Homo sapiens: one gene and its partner. The protein of the gene in region 1 purifies or fractionates together with the protein of each later gene. This does not show direct contact. Each region holds a gene or a part of one and is shown on either strand. Other genes may lie near its edges. The genes, in order: HEXA and DHRS4.

Region 1 (9,030 bases):
CAAGACTCAAAAAATAACAGAGTGACTTAAATCTACCTTACAGGCTACTGTAGATCAATGTTCAGGCTGTTTCCAGGGATACAAATGTTTAGGGGAATTGGCTTCATTGGCAGAGCTAACTATATTTGTTTTTGAGACAGCGTCTCAATTTTTTTTTTTTTTTTTTGTATTTTTTGTAGAGCTGGGGTTTCGTCATGTTACCCAGGCTGGTCTTGAACTCCTGGGCTCAAGCAATCTGCCCACCTTGGCCTGCCAGAGTGGTAGAATTACAGGCATGAGTCACTACACCTGGCCGGCAGAGCTAACTTTAGTTAGAACAAGGTCATAGGAGAGAGACGTTCAAAGCCTTAACTTGGGGCCAGGTGCAGTGGCTCACACCTGTAATCCTAGCACTCTGGGAGGCCAAGGCGGGTGGATTGCCCGAGCTCAGGAGTTTGAGACTAACCTGGCCAAGACGGTGAAACCCCATCTCTACTGAAAATACAAAAAATTAGCCAGGCGCGATGGCGCAAACCTGTAGTCCCAGCTACTCAGGAGTCTGTGATGGGAGAATCACCTGAGCCTGGGGAGATCAAGGATGCATGAACTGTGATTGCACCACTGCACTCCAGCCTGGACAACAGAGACCCTGTCTCAAAAATAAATAAATAAATAAATAAGTGAAGGAAGGAAGGAGGCTGAGGCATGAGAAGCACTTGAACCTGGGAGGTGGAGGTTGCAGTGAGCTGAGATTGTGCCACTGCACTCCAGCCTGGGTGACACAGCAAGACTCTGTCTCAAAAAAAAAAAAAAAAAAAAAAAAAGCCTTTCCTGGGGAAGTTCCTAACTCTCTTGAGTTTAATGTGCAGTCTTATCTGACAGTTCCCAATCCAGTTCCTGTGTCTGCCTTTTCCTTTGCTCCTGTGACGGAACCAAAGGAGGCCACACATCTGCCAGCCTTTGCTTCTGAGATTATGAGTTAAGAGGCTACTAAGTTCCCAGGAGGTCTCACAGTTGGGCTTAACATCAGTCAGACAACCGAACACAAATGGCAAGAGGAAGTATTGATCTTCAGGCTTTTGGAAGATTCCAGGCTACCACAGTAGCTGCAGCCCTCCTCTTAATGTGGCCAGAATTTATTTCAAGAAGAGGAAAGACCACTTCTATCATCCATCTTTGGATGTGTTCTGGGAAAAGTAGAAGTGTGCTGGGCCTTCCCTCCATGCCATCCCTCCCTGATGGGAAGGTTTGATAGACCCCATAAATACTTAATTGAGAGCTGAGGCAGGTCAAGCCTGTAGGGGTGTGTGGAGCGGCCTGAGAGCTCGCCCAACATCGCAAGTTTGAGGCTGAAACCGGAGAGACTGTGATGGGTTCACAGTGTGCACTTTAACCTACAGGATGTCATGGCGTACAATAAATTGAACGTGTTCCACTGGCATCTGGTAGATGATCCTTCCTTCCCATATGAGAGCTTCACTTTTCCAGAGCTCATGAGAAAGGTATGTTCCCGTTTCACTCAGACCAAGTTTATGGGTCAATGTCTGAATCTGGCTGTGGCCCTGCTGGCAAGAACAGGGTCTCTCATCCTAACCAGCCAGTTTTAGACCAATATAGGGGAAGGACACTGGATTTGGAGTCAGGAGACTTGAGTTCAAGTCCAAAACTTTGCCGATAATTTGCCTTGTGACCTTCAGGAGAGAATCTCTTCTGGCCTTATTCCCTTTTTATGTATTTATATTCTGTTAAATGGACATAGTATTAATACCTACCATGATTATCTCACTGGCATTATGATACTCAGATAAAACAGATGTGATAACTTCTGGGAAATTATGATCAAGTTTTTTGAAGATAGTCCCTGACACCAAAGGGCTATGGGCAGGTTTTCTGATATCTGGGGAGTCTTGTGGGCATTTTGAGTATCTTCTACTCTGCTAGCTTTCAGGAAGTGTGAACCTGAAGGGTGTCTTGTGCCTTTCAGGGGTCCTACAACCCTGTCACCCACATCTACACAGCACAGGATGTGAAGGAGGTCATTGAATACGCACGGCTCCGGGGTATCCGTGTGCTTGCAGAGTTTGACACTCCTGGCCACACTTTGTCCTGGGGACCAGGTAAGAATGATGTCTGGGACCAGAGGGACTCTGCTTGTTATGCTCAGAGTGAAGCTTCAGGGCACTGGCTCATGGAAGTGGCATATCCCAGCCTTGGTCCTTAGAAGAATGTTTTCCATCGACTTCTTCCACCTGGGAATTTAGATAGGAAGAACTCACTTTGGACAATGGAGGCTGCTTCTTACTATTAAAATATGTACTGTTAGACTATGTAAGGGCACATTTTTCTCAGATGCCGTTGCAGGTAGTTGTGCCTAGAGTGGATGCTGAGGAATCTGACCACCAGGGTAGAATCTGAAAGAAAGAAGCCCAAGGGCAGCCTGCAGAGGTCAGAGTCAGTCAGTACCCCTGCTCCCTTTCTTCTGTATACCCTCAGCCCTCCAGTGTGAGCCCCCAACACAGGTTAAATGACAGTTGAAAAGGGCTACTGGCCTGATAGAAAACTGAAGATATTGGCCGGGCGTGGTGGCTCATGTCTGTAATCCCACCACTTTTGGAGGCCAAGGCGGGTGGATCACCTGAGGTCAGGAGTTCAAGACCAGCCTGGCCAACATGGTGAAACTCCATCTCTACTAAAAATACAAAAATTAGCCAGGCGTGGTGGCAGGCGCCTGTAATCCCAGCTACTCGGGAGGCTGAGGCAGGAGAATCGCTTGAACCCAGGAGGCAGAGGTTGCAGTGAGCCAAGATCATGCCACTGTACTCCAGCCTGGGCGACAGAGCAAGACTCTGTCTCAAAAACAAACAAACAACAACAACCAAAAAAAAACCCTGAAGATATCTTGTGACCTCAGCGTCAGGAAGTAGTCTCTGGGCCAAGGGAGATATCCCTTAGCAAATGTAAAAAGATTCTGGGTGATGGTTGACCCCACCTACAGGAGGAGATAGAGAAGAAAGATTTTGCCAGTTTGGCTGGATTAGGCTCTCTCTCTGCCTCAAGGCCTGTGAGGAGAGCAGCCTTGGGAGCAAGGGTAGCACCTGCTAGAAGCAGTGTGTCCAGGCAAGAGTGTGCGCACTGACAGTTGTCTGGCTGGAACTTAGCCTCTGCCTATGATTGTGGATATATTTGTATCTTTTTACTGTGACTAAATGGTGGTGACTACCAGTGTCTGTGAGTGCCTAAGTGTGCCTACCTAAATGTGTGTGATGTTTATGAATACACTTGTCTTGCTTTGTGTGACTCGTGTCCTTACGTGTAGGACTGTGCGTGGGGGTTTATGTATTTGTGACACTCATATGGGGTTTTCTCTTGGCTTAGGTATCCCTGGATTACTGACTCCTTGCTACTCTGGGTCTGAGCCCTCTGGCACCTTTGGACCAGTGAATCCCAGTCTCAATAATACCTATGAGTTCATGAGCACATTCTTCTTAGAAGTCAGCTCTGTCTTCCCAGATTTTTATCTTCATCTTGGAGGAGATGAGGTTGATTTCACCTGCTGGTATGAGCCCTTTGATCTTCCCACTGTGGCCTGATCAGTTGCTTACTCAGAATAGAAGTTAGCACCCGAGGGGCTGCTTAGCTCAGCTGCTGCTCTCAGGGGTCTGTATGGGCTCACATTGCTCAGGTCTTAGGCCTTCCTCTGCCCATCTACGTAGAGATCCTACCTGATTTTGGCAAGGCTTTCACTGTGAACCTCTTCCTTCCTACTCTCATATCCTTGAGGTATTGATAGAAAAAACAGCCCTGGGCACAGAATTGTCTTGGAAAAGTTCGGGATAGAGAAAAATAATCCCTGTTTATGAAGGCTTAAAATTGTCTAGTTGAAGAGTCAAGACACAGAATTCAAGACTAATAGGTGACAATGTCTAATTAGTATTCAGTTGTAAAGTCCAAACCCTTGGTTCTAGTAAGCTCAAAAGAGGCTGAGGGGCTTCTTTGAGAAGAGGGCGCTAGAGCTGAATCTGGGGAAATCAATTTGGCTTTTTGGAGATGTGAGCAGGGGAAAATATTCCAGAAGGAGAACAATGTGAGCAAAATGTGGACGTCATAACGCAAGGGATCTGCAGCAGGTGTTAGACAGCAAGGCTTGTCATCCAACTGGAAGAGCAGATAGGAAAGCCGAAATCCAGTGTGCTGGAGCTTCAAGTTAAGACCTTGGATTCTCATGTTGCAGTCCAGAGAGGATTAATATGTTTTCTCTTTGGGAGTTTGAACTTAAAACTCTTCAGGTCCAGACTCAGCCTTTCTCAGCCTGTGTCAACAGCCCACCTGCTTCACATAACTTTGCTTGGCCACACTTTCCACATGTAGGGCTTCTGAGATCCTTGCTTATTTGATTTTTCAGGTGAAAAGAGGAAGTTATAGGGGGCCAGGTGACTAATCCCCAGGCATTAGGCTTTCAGGATGTTGAAAGATTAATCTTCATTTTCTCTTGGGATTCAGGAAGTCCAACCCAGAGATCCAGGACTTTATGAGGAAGAAAGGCTTCGGTGAGGACTTCAAGCAGCTGGAGTCCTTCTACATCCAGACGTGAGGAAGGAAGGAGGGTGGGTGGGGTCCCTTGGGGGTCCTCCTGTGGGGTCCTCCCTTTCCATACCGAGTCAGGCCCTGCTTGGCCACTGTCTGGTCCCTGCAGGGTTCCCTTGTCCTTTGTCCCATCCTTTCAGATTTGGAGTGGTTGGTTTTCAGCCCAGGGGAAAGACACTGCTTAATGAGGAATAGGCCCCTGGCCAGGCTCAACCCCTAGAGCACTGGCACAAACAGTCTAGAACCCATCTGAGCTAAGCAGACACTTACTAGACACTCCTCTCCTCTCCAGGCTGCTGGACATCGTCTCTTCTTATGGCAAGGGCTATGTGGTGTGGCAGGAGGTGTTTGATAATAAAGTAAAGGTGAGCCGGGGCAGAGAAGAGAAGAAGCCACCAGCAGTGCCTCCCTCTGGTCTCCCCAGCTCCTCCCTGCCTCTACAGAGACTGATCCTCCTGGTTTGGATTGGGCTTTAATGGTCGGAGCACTCTCCTTTTCTCTCTAGAAAGGCCACAGAGTGCTGGGTGCAGTGGCTCACGCCTGTAATCCAAGCACTTTGGTAGGCCAAGGCAGGGGGATTGCTTGAGCCTAGGAGTTCAAGACCAGCCTGGCCAACATAGCAAAACCCTCATCTCTACAAAAAATACAAAAATCAGGAGGCTGAGGTTGGGGTACTGCTTGAGCCCAGGAGGCAGAGGTTGCTGTGAGCCAAGATGTGCCTCTGCACTCAACCCTGGGCAACAGAGTGAGACCCTGCCTCAAAAAAACCAAAGGCCGCTGTGGTATGAGCCCTGGGTTTATGTGTCAGAGTTTCTATCTTCCCTCACTACAAACTTAATTAAGAACTATTTCTGCTGTTAGGTTACTTGGATAGGCTGGATTTTTCTTCCTAAATCATAGATGAGGGTCTTCTGGGTCTGTGGGACCAAGGTTACCTTCTCCTTTATTGTTGATCAGTAAGATCCCAGTCTCCTGTCACATGCAAGGACTCTTCAGGAACCTTGTCCCGTCCCCAGAAACATCTGGAGACTTTTGGACATGGCAGCTCCTGGGTCCCACTGCTTGCCTCCCTCAGCTCACAGCTGGTATTACTAGCTCTGTGTGGACAGGGAGGCTGCAGAGGGACGGGGAGGAGAGCTGCAGGGAGGCCTCTTAGGGCCCTGGATTCCTTGGCCTCTGTCCTGAGGTGTGAGCTCAATGGTCAGGAGTCACAGAGACATACTTTGCTGCTGGGGAACAGAGGGAGCACATACCTGTTGTCCCATGTTGCCTGTGTATGAATAAGGCCCAGGAATCTCCTCAGCTTTGTGTCCTTACTGCCATTTGACCTTTTATAACAGATTCAGCCAGACACAATCATACAGGTGTGGCGAGAGGATATTCCAGTGAACTATATGAAGGAGCTGGAACTGGTCACCAAGGCCGGCTTCCGGGCCCTTCTCTCTGCCCCCTGGTACCTGAACCGTATATCCTATGGCCCTGACTGGAAGGATTTCTACATAGTGGAACCCCTGGCATTTGAAGGTGAAAGCAGAGAGCTCTCCTTGCTAACCAAAGGAGGCTGGGTTGGGGCACAGGATGGGAGGCAGGAAGGTCTGGGCCAGACATTTCCAGTTAGTAAATGAAACAACTTAGCTGGGGTGAGGGCCACATTGGGAAGGTGGTTGAGAGGGACCCTGGAGTTACCCCACCATCACCAGACTGTTGTTGCTTGTTTTCCCTCAGGTACCCCTGAGCAGAAGGCTCTGGTGATTGGTGGAGAGGCTTGTATGTGGGGAGAATATGTGGACAACACAAACCTGGTCCCCAGGCTCTGGTAAGGGTTTTCGGGGGGGAGGTGGAGGGTTGGGCCTGAGAGCAGGAGTTCTCCCTTAGAGACCCAATCCCATCTAGCCACCTCTGGACTAGTACCCTTCTTTCAGGCCTGAGAGAGAGCAGGCCGTGCAACGAGCCTTCTGAAGATTTGTGTGCAATATTCACTCTCCACATGACTTCCGTCTATATCCCTCCAGCTGCCCTTTGGTATGTGGGATAGGGATTGTTAACCTTACTTCCCAGAGAGATAATGAGGCCTGGAGAACATAGGTGAGTTGCTCAAGACCCAGCACAAGCATCCATGATTCCTGTAATAAGGCTTCCCTCTGCTGTTTTCACTGCAGCCTTACCAAGTATGGTTGGGTGTGCAAAGTTTACATTTTAAGGACCTCTGCTGCTGCCACTGTCATTGTGGTTAATGATGGCTTTAAGGTTTATTCTTATTCCCATATCTTTGAGAGAGGAAGAGAGTGGGATTGCTACCCACATTTTAATGAAGGTGGAGCTGAGCCGTAGAACTCTCTGGGAGCCATCCAACCTGGCTGTGGCTCATAACAAGGTATTGATCACTTCCTTTGGCCTGAGTGAGTCCAGGGTGCCTAGACAAGAGGTAGCAGCCTGTGGATGTCCAGCACCTTTGCAGGGAATACAGGGCCCAATCTGGCACATGCCCCTTTTCCTCCAGGCCCAGAGCAGGGGCTGTTGCCGAAAGGCTGTGGAGCAACAAGTTGACATCTGACCTGACATTTGCCTATGAACGTTTGTCACACTTCCGCTGTGAATTGCTGAGGTAAGCAAGCTGTGGGGCCTTCGCAAGGCGGAGCAGGCCAGATCCAGGGCTGGGGAACCCCTTAGAGAGAGGAAGACAATAATTAACAATAGCTAACACTTACAGAGGCTTATAGTCAGCCCTCATCCACGGATTCAACCAACTGCGATAAAAAGTATTCAGGAAAAAAAAAATACAACAAAAAATGGTACAAATAAAAAATACTGTATAACAACTATTTACATAGCATTTATATTGTATTAGGTATAAGTAATCTAAGATCATTTCAAGTATATGGGAAGTTGTACATTGGTTATATGCAAATACTATGTCATTTTTATATAAGGGACTTGAGCATCCTTGGATTTTGGTATCCACGGGGGTCCTGAAACAAATCCCCTGTGGATACTGAGGGACAACTGTATTTTGTGGCAAACACTGTGCTAAGTTTGTTACAAATATTGTCTCATTTAGTCTTCACCACAGCCCCATGAGACAGGTGCATTTTAGAGATAGACACTGAAGCACAGAGTTCAGGACCTTGCCCAAAGTCACTAAGAAGCAGGATTTGAACCAGGCTGACTTACAGGATGTCATGACACCTTTGCCTCTGTCAGGGATGTGCCTGTGTAAGATAGTCATTTCCCTGATTCCTTCGTTGGCTAGGTCTTGAGTACTTGGGGGACATAGCCTAGTGCAGAGCAGAGTCCTGGGCTGAGAGTCAAGCATGATGGTGTCTAAGCCTCAATTATGTCATTCACTGGGTAACTTCCAGCTGGTTCTCTAAGCATGTTGCTTACTTGGATGATAAGGGAAGCATGCCTAGAGGTCCCCTAAGGAGATTGGTCAGGTTATAGACTGAGACCCAAGGACAGGATTTCGCATCCATGTTCATGGACAGGACAGCACCTAAGTCCCCCAGTGCCACCATATTTACAGCATTTTAGAGTCAGGAACAGAGGGCTAAGTAGACCAAGAGCATTGGCTGCCTTTCAGACATCCATCTATATTCTAAAGGGATTGAGTTATTTGGGGTTAGGGTACAGAGATGGGCAGGATATAAATAGATGTCGCCAACGTTTCTGGATCTCCAAGACCTGTATCAGAATCACCTGAGGCACCTGTTCAGCTTGCAGATTCTTGCCAATACTTTGCCCCACCCCAGGTGAGAATCTCTGGAATTGAGATTCCCAGGTGCATTTGGTGTACAGTGACAGTTTGAGAGTCACCGAAATGGGGAAGGAGAGACTGTTGACTGGTGTGAAAAGTGTTGCTGGGGCCCCTTCTGAGGGGCTTATCTTGCCATTTCTTCATGTCCTCTTGCAGGCGAGGTGTCCAGGCCCAACCCCTCAATGTAGGCTTCTGTGAGCAGGAGTTTGAACAGACCTGAGCCCCAGGCACCGAGGAGGGTGCTGGCTGTAGGTGAATGGTAGTGGAGCCAGGCTTCCACTGCATCCTGGCCAGGGGACGGAGCCCCTTGCCTTCGTGCCCCTTGCCTGCGTGCCCCTGTGCTTGGAGAGAAAGGGGCCGGTGCTGGCGCTCGCATTCAATAAAGAGTAATGTGGCATTTTTCTATAATAAACATGGATTACCTGTGTTTAAAAAAAAAAGTGTGAATGGCGTTAGGGTAAGGGCACAGCCAGGCTGGAGTCAGTGTCTGCCCCTGAGGTCTTTTAAGTTGAGGGCTGGGAATGAAACCTATAGCCTTTGTGCTGTTCTGCCTTGCCTGTGAGCTATGTCACTCCCCTCCCACTCCTGACCATATTCCAGACACCTGCCCTAATCCTCAGCCTGCTCACTTCACTTCTGCATTATATCTCCAAGGCGTTGGTATATGGAAAAAGATGTAGGGGCTTGGAGGTGTTCTGGACAGTGGGGAGGGC
Region 2 (8,040 bases), on another chromosome or scaffold:
TGGCCTCAACTGATCCCCACACCTCAGCCCCCCAAAATATTGGGATTGCAGGCATGAGCCACCACACACAGCCAGATTCTGATAGTCTTTAAAATAGAGGAGCATCATTCATGAACAGTCTGAATAGAGACCATATGAAAGTCAGTTTTAAACTAAGTACAGGCACGCCTCAGAGATATTGTGGGTCTGGTTCCAGGCCACCACACAATAAAGTGAATATTATAATAAAGTGAGTCACATGAATTTTTTGGTTTCCCAGTGCATATAAAAGTTAGGTTTACATTATAATGATCATCTAATGGAAGTCTATTAACTGAGCAATAGCATTATGTTTTAAAATATATATACGTATCTTAATTTTAAAATACTTTATTGCTAAAAAAATGCTGACAATCATCTGAGCCTTTACAACTTGTAATCTTTTTGCTGGTGGAGGATCTTGCCTCAACATTGATGGTGGCTGACTTAGGGTGGTGTTGCTGAAGGCTGGGGTGGCTGTGGCAGTTTTTTCAAATAAGACAGCAGTGAAGTTTGCCACATCAGTTGACTCTTCCTTTCACAAGAGATTTCTCTGTAGCATGCAATCCTGTTTGATAGCATTTACCCACAGTAGAACTTCTTTCAAAATTGGAGTCAATCCTATCAAACTCTACCACTGCTTACTCTACTAAGTACCTATAATATTCTGAATCCCGTGTTGTGATTTCAACAATATTCATGGCATCTTCACCAGAAATAGATTCCATCCCAAGAAACCACTTTCTTTGCTTATCCGTAAGAACCAGCTCCTCAGCCATCTACATTTTATCGTGAGATTGTAGCAATTCAGTCCCATCTTCCAGCTCCGCTTCTAGTTCTCTTGCTATTTCCACCACATCTGCAGTTCCTTCCTCTGATGCAGTCTTGAACCCTTCCACGTCATCCATGAGGGTTGGAATCAACTTCTTCCAGACTCCTGTTAATGTAGATATTTTGACCTCCTCCCATGAATCACAAATATTCTTAATGGCATCTAAAATGGTGCATCCTTTACAGAAGGTTTTCAGTTAACTTTGCCGAGATCCATCAGAGGAATCACTATCCATGGCAGCTATAGCCTTACAAAATGTATTTCTTAAATAATAAGTCTTGGAAGTCAGAATTACCCCCGATCCATGGGCTGCAGAATGGATGTTGTGTTAGCAGGCATGAAAACAACATTAATCTCCTTGTACATCTCCATCAGAGCTTTTGAGTGACCAGGTGCATTGTCAATGAGCAGTAACAGTTTGAAAGGAATCTTTTTCTGAGCAGTAGCTATCAACGGTGAGCTTAAAATATTCAGTAAACCATGCTATAAACAGATGTGCTGTTATTCAGGCTTTGTTGTTCCATTTGCAGAGCACAGGCAGAGTAGATTTAGCGTAAATCTGAGGGCCCTAGAATTTTCAGAATGGTAAATGAGCATTGGCTTCAACTTAAAGTCACTGGCTGCATTAGCCCCTAACAAGAGAATAAGCCTGTCCTTTGAAGTTTTGAAGCCAGGCATTGACTTCTCCTCTCTAGCTATTAAAGCCCTACATGGCATCTTCTTCCACTAGAAGGTTGTTTCATCTACATTGAAAATCTGTTGTTTGCTGTAGCCACCTTCATCAATGATCTTAGCTAGATCTTCTGGATAACTGGCTGCAGCTTCTACATCAGCACTCGCTGCTTCATCTTGCACTTTTATGTTACAGAGGTGGCTTCTTAAACCTCATGAACCAACCACTGCTAGCTTCCAACTTTTCCGGAGCTTCTTCACCTCTCTCAGCCTTCAAAGAATTAAAAATTAGGGCCTTTTACTGATTAGGCTTTGGCTTAAGGGAATGTTGTGGCTAGTTTGATCTTCTGTCCAGAACATAAGAACTTTCTCTCCATATTAACAATAAACCTCTTTTGCTTTCTTATCATTTATATGTTCAGAGAAGTAGCACTTTTAATTTCCTTCAAGAATTTTTCCTTTGCATTCACAATTTGGCTAACTGGTGCACATGGTCTAACTTTCAGCCTGCCTCAGCTTTCAACATGCCTTCCTCACTAAGCTTAATTGTTTCTAGCTTTTGATTTAAAGTGAAAGATGTGTGACTCTTCCTTTTGCTTAAACACTTACAAGCCATTGTAGGGTTAATAGTTGGCCTAATTTCAATGTAAATGTGTCTCAGGGAATATGGAGGCCCACAGAGAGGGAGAGAGATGAGAGAAGGGCAGAGCAGTCAGAACACACAACATTTTTCGATTAAGTTGACCTTCTTTTCTGGGTGTGGTTTGTGGTACCCCAAAACAATTATAATAAAACCATGAAAGATCACTCATCACAGATCACCGTAACAGATACAATAATAATGGAAAGGTCTGAAATATTCCAAGAATTACCAAAATGTGACCCAGAGACAAAGTGAGCACATGCAATTGGAAAAATGGCTCGAATTAATGCAGGGTTGCCACGAAACTGCAATTTGTAAAAAAAAAAAAAAAAAAAAAAAAAAAAAAAAAACACAATATCTGCAAAGCATAAGAAAATATGTGTCTATAACTTTTCTTTTAATTTGTATATTTTTTAAACTATCACAGTATGACAAATCCAAACATAATGGCTGATCCTTGATTGAACTCTGGACTTTAAAAAACACACACACACATTTGGGGGATAATTGAGGCCAATATGTTAGATAAAATTATCATCATTGTCAAACTCTTGGTTGTGATAACAGATTATGGTTGTGTAAAAGAAAATCCTTACTCTTTGGAAATGTATGCTAAGTATTTGGGGATAGAACATTGTACTATCTGCAACTGAGTTTACTTATTTTATTTTAGGTTATTTATTTATTTTTGTGATGGAGCCTCACTCTGTTACCCAGGCTGGAGTGCAGTGGTGCTATCTCAGCTCACTGCAACCTCCACCTCCCGGGTTCAAGCTATTCTGCTGTCTCATCCTCCTGAGTAGCTTGGATTACAAACACATGCCACCACGTCTGGCTAATTTTTGTATTTTTAGTACAGACGAGGTTTGCCATGTTGCCCAGGCTGTTCTCGAACTCCTGACCTAAAAGTGATCCACCCATCTTGGCCTCCCGAAGTGCAGGGATTGCAGGCATGAGCCACCATGCCCAGCCCTGAGTTTGTTTTTTTTTTTTAATTTACATTTTTTTATTTTTGTTCTTTGTAATTTTTGATTTTATTATATAAAATCTTTCAGAAAACTTGCAACTGAGTTTCAATGGTTCATTTAAAAAACTGTACAGATCTACAGAGAGGACAAATAGGACAAAATGTGAACAATTGGTGAATCTAAGTGAAGGATATCTAGACATTCATTGTACTTCTATCTCCAATTTTTCTGTAAGATTGAAATATTTTAATATAAGCAGTTGTCTAGAACAGTGTAAACAGGGTCATACATTTGTTTTAGATTATGGATGTGGGGATTCTGATTGTAGCCTGTCCCCCAGCTTCCCCAGAAGGTGACTCCTCATGATCCCACTTTCTAACCATGCCTAGCCAGACAGTCCTTCCTAGAGGGCCAAGAACATCTCACTCCCTAAGCCCAGAAGCCAGAGAAGTGCTAGAACAACCCCACATATCCAAGGTCAGGCCACATTTTCCCTGAGAAGCATGGCCTACTCTAGGGCAGGTAGTCTAGGGCAGGTCCAGGAGGCTGACAATTCCAGGCTCTACCTACTTGGAAGAAACAGAGAAAACACAGCTCAAATCCAAAGGCCCCTTCTGGCCCAAATCATACTTGGCTGATTATGAAACAAGATGAACCAGGCTCCATTTTTGCTCACCTGAACCTAATGTATCAATATCTAGCTGAGCAGCTGGTGAGAGCTACTTCTCCCTGAACCTCAGTTCCTTCATGTGTAAGATGCAGGTATATCATCCTAAGATCTTCGTCAGCTCTGACAAACATCCTAGGAACCCACTCTAACTCCTCATTTTTTCATGCCTCCTCCAGTGCTCTTCACTCATGCTGTTTCCCCTTCTTCTCTTGGCTTCAGACTCTGGACATTAATGTGAAGGCCCCAGCCCTGATGACAAAGGCAGTGGTGCCAGAAATGGAGAAACGAGGGTACAGAGAGTGAGAGAGAGCCTGGGTGAGAGGGGACACCACACGGGCTGAGGGCACTGGTCCACAATGGGAAGATGGTCAGCTCTCTTCTTTTTCCAGAGGCGGCTCAGTGGTGATCGTGTCTTCCATAGCAGCCTTCAGTCCATCTCCTGTAAGAACCCTTTTGTCTACCTCTTCCATCCCACCCTCCACTCCACATCTTTCCACCCCTCCTATTACCCAAGGAAGTTTGTGTCCCCTTGTAGAATCACACCACCAAGTCCCTGCCCACAAAATAGATGCCTTGCCTCCACAAACCACAACCTAGGGGAGGTTTAGCCACAAGACAGTTCCCTAACTCTGCCCCTCCCTTACAGGAGATCCCTATTGAGCACTGCCCTCTATGTCTAGTTATTAGAACCAAGAATGACCTGGAAACTATGAGTCTAACACATTCTCTTCTTTCTCCAGGGCTTCAGTCCTTACAATGTCAGTAAAACAGCCTTGCTGGGCCTGACCAAGACCCTGGCCATAGAGCTGGCCCCAAGGAACATTAGGGTGAACTGCCTAGCACCTGGACTTATCAAGACTAGCTTCAGCAGGATGGTGAGGAAGGGGAGCTTTGCATTTGACTGGGACCCCTTGAAAGGCATCCATCTTCTTGGACAGGGAAGCCCACTACCTGAGTCCTGAGCTCTCAGCCACTCCATTCTCCTTCCCTGGACTTTCCCATATTCCCTCTCTGTACCACCTGCCCTATACAAGCCACACTCTTATCACACCTTTTCTGAGGTATAGGCTGGAGACTGAGGTATTCAGACTGTACTCACACTGTTTCCTCCCTCCTTACATGGATGAGAATTGGAGAGACGCAGCAAAATGCATCACTAGAACCTGAAACAAATGAAACAGATGAGGGCAGTGGGGAGAGCTGGGAGCTAGAAAAAAATAGGAAGTGAAAGAGGGAAGTCTCTCTCCCCATCCCTCCTCTCAGTTACCATGAGGATGGGCAGTTTCTTCCCTTTCCGTTCTTCACTTTCCTCTTCTTAAACATAAAGAGATTTCTGGGTGGGGTGGCTCATGCCTGTAATCCCAGCACATTGGGAGGCCGAGGCGGGCAGATCACGAGGTCAGGAGGTCGAGACCATCTTGGCTAACACGGTGAAACCCCGTCTCTACTAAAAATACAAAAAATTAGCCGGGCGCAGTGGCGAGCGCCTGTAATCCCAGCTACTCGGGAGGCTGAGGCAGGAGAATGGCATAACCCGGGAGGCGGAGTTTGCAGTGAGCCAAGATAGCGCCACTACAGTCCGGCCTGGGCAAAAGAGCAAGACTCCGTCTCTAAAAAGAAAAAGAAAAAGAAAAAAAAAACATAAAGAGATTTCCCTTCTTCCTGCAGCTCTGGATGGACAAGGAAAAAGAGGAAAGCATGAAAGAAACCCTGCGGATAAGAAGGTAAACTGTCATGAGGGCAAGGGCACTAAGAGACATGAAGATGGGAAGGTCTGGTCCCTAGCAGCCCACAGCCCGCTGTCTCAGTCCCACAGATAACACAGGCAGGCTCTCTTCTGCCTCACAGACCACGAATTCATAAACACTATCACTACAGTGACCTGAGCAAGAAGTCAGCTTCCCTTTCAAAAGGTAAACACAGAGACATCGGGGTTTCAGCAGTGCAGAGCTCTGGGAGAAGCCCTGAGTCCTCTCTCCACCTGGGGGATTGCCTCCACCTCTGAGCATCCATGGAGACCAGGGACCATAACCAAAACCATGCTTTGTTAGTCCCCTTGAATAATGACACATGTTTACAAAACTCAGGTTGATGATCTACAATCCAAATGAAAAGAATGAAGAGTTTTACTAAGCCCCAAACTCCCCTTGCCTAAGGAGTTACTTTCTTCCCCAGTGAGCTGGGTGAACTGTTCAAGCACCTTTGTCGGGCTCCCTTTCCTCTAAGTTCCCTGCCTCTCTCTACCTTCTGGCTTCAAGGACAAATGCCAGTAATGCCTAACTCTGTACTCGTCCAGACATCCCAAATCTTCCCAAAGCCATTCTGATGTGAGACATGAGCTGCAGGCCTGGTTCATAACTCATTAATAAGTGAGGGGATTGTCAACCTAGAGCACCAATGAATGATCTAGCCCATGTAGCTCAATACTGGATTCACATTAGAATCACCTGGGGAGCTTTTTAAACTGCAGGTGCTCAGGCCCCACCCACTCCCAGAGATTCTTTTTAATTGGTCCAAGGTAGGACTTGACCATCTGGGCTTTTGTTTTTCTTTGTCTTTTCTTTTCTTTTCTTTTTTGGTTTAAGCCTCTCAAATGATTGCAAGATACAAGTAGAATGGAGAAGCATTAATTCAGCCCTTCTAGGTTTGAGTTACTCACTCTGCCCACCTCTAGAGCATTCTATGGCAGGGAGATTAAAGTGTCTCCTAACTATGCAGTCACTGATAAAATAAGAATTAGCACATTCTCACTAAATGAACCTGACTTTAAGGCACAAGTATAGATTCCTGAAAAAGTTCTAAGCTGAACCTGTACAAATGGAATCATTTTAAACACACCATTTACTGTCACACAGACTCCCTGATACTTTAGTGTGTGCACATGTGAAACCATTTTTTTGAAGTATGAAATAATTGCTCACCATTTTATCTATATAACTTTGGATTTTGGTGTCCTGAGCTCTCTAAAAACCGGTGTGTTTCTATAGTATTTGAATATTATGGGTAATAGTTTTGCAGAGTACAGTATGCTTATACTAAATTATAACAGCATATCCTCGTGGTAACCCTATTTGATAGGCAGAAAGCTTGTACACTGACCCTGAAAAAGCCATCTGATAATTCTTGATTAAGCAAATTTAACTCCCTGTGTCCCAGGTGAGGGAGGCAGAACTGTTTGATTTTTACCTCCTTCCTTGCTTCCCTTATTCCCCAGGTTAGGCGAGCCAGAGGATTGTGCTGGCATCGTGTCTTTCCTGTGCTCTGAAGATGCCAGCTACATCACTGGGGAAACAGTGGTGGTGGGTGGAGGAACCCCGTCCCGCCTCTGAGGACCGGGAGACAGCCCACAGGCCAGAGTTGGGCTCTAGCTCCTGGTGCTGTTCCCGCATTCACCCACTGGCCTTTCCCACCTCTGCTCACCTTACTGTTCACCTCATCAAATCAGTTCTGCCCTGTGAAAAGATCCAGCCTTCCCTGCCGTCAAGGTGGCGTCTTACTCGGGATTTCTGCTGTTGTTGTGGCCTTGGGTAAAGGCCTCCCCTGAGAACACAGGACAGGCCTGCTGACAAGGCTGAGTCTACCTTGGCAAAGACCAAGATATTTTTTCCCGGGCCACTGGGGAATCTGAGGGGTGATGGGAGAGAAGGAACCTGGAGTGGAAGGAGCAGAGTTGCAAATTAACAACTTGCAAATGAGGTGCAAATAAAATGCAGATGATTGCGCGGCTTTGAATCCAATTGACCTGTTCATTTCTCAGTGTTGGGTGCTTAGCTGAGCAGAGAGCAGAAGTCTATTCAGGCTGGATCTCTGGATCCCCCAGCCCTCCTCCCTGTCTCCAGAACTTGAGCGTGATGTTCACGGGTGGAGGTGTCTGCAGAGCTGCCAGCTGGAAGGAAGGTGGCACGGGAACTCCCAGGACGCCACGGGAATCCCCGAGGCAGCGCGAGCCCGGAGAGAGTGGGGAAGGATGAACTCTCTAACACCTCCCCGCCCCTTGCCTCCCAGATCAGGCCAGGTCCTCTCCCCGCATGGCCCTACGACCCGAGTTCCCTCCCGAGTCAGCAAGTACAAGCTGGATGGGTCCTGAGCCGGTGGGGAATAGAGAAAGGCCCTGCAAGGTACCCAGGCCCACAAACAAAAGCAATGGGTTCTGCCCACGGGCCCGAGGATTCAGTAGAAGGAAAGTGGGGACGCTGTCCCCCGCCCCAAAGGCACTGACACTGGGCGACACACGCTG

The links.
Region 2: the proteins of HEXA (region 1) and DHRS4 purify together in Homo sapiens (affinity purification with mass spectrometry; 2 studies listed by BioGRID and IntAct, with this or other methods). This does not show direct contact.

What each region holds. Positions count from the first base shown.
Region 1 is NC_000015.10:72,343,584-72,352,613, reverse strand, and holds part of HEXA (beta-hexosaminidase subunit alpha isoform 2 preproprotein), read left to right. Parts: intron 1-1,379; coding exon 1,380-1,481; intron 1,482-1,963; coding exon 1,964-2,096; intron 2,097-3,354; coding exon 3,355-3,535; intron 3,536-4,479; coding exon 4,480-4,566; intron 4,567-4,855; coding exon 4,856-4,928; intron 4,929-5,903; coding exon 5,904-6,087; intron 6,088-6,288; coding exon 6,289-6,379; intron 6,380-7,063; coding exon 7,064-7,168; exon of another isoform or gene 7,169-7,385; intron 7,386-8,473; coding exon 8,474-8,537; 3' UTR 8,538-9,030. UniProt on the Homo sapiens protein: Hydrolyzes the non-reducing end N-acetyl-D-hexosamine and/or sulfated N-acetyl-D-hexosamine of glycoconjugates, such as the oligosaccharide moieties from proteins and neutral glycolipids, or from certain mucopolysaccharides.
Region 2 is NC_000014.9:23,961,740-23,969,779, forward strand, and holds the end of DHRS4 (dehydrogenase/reductase SDR family member 4), read left to right. Parts: intron 1-2,838; coding exon of another isoform or gene 2,839-2,859; exon of another isoform or gene 2,860-4,022; coding exon 4,023-4,093; exon of another isoform or gene 4,094-4,192; coding exon 4,193-4,244; exon of another isoform or gene 4,245-4,543; coding exon 4,544-4,678; exon of another isoform or gene 4,679-4,966; intron 4,967-5,070; exon of another isoform or gene 5,071-5,332; intron 5,333-5,471; coding exon 5,472-5,527; coding exon of another isoform or gene 5,528-5,531; exon of another isoform or gene 5,532-5,944; intron 5,945-7,017; coding exon 7,018-7,132; 3' UTR 7,133-7,540; downstream 7,541-8,040. UniProt on the Homo sapiens protein: NADPH-dependent oxidoreductase which catalyzes the reduction of a variety of compounds bearing carbonyl groups including ketosteroids, alpha-dicarbonyl compounds, aldehydes, aromatic ketones and quinones.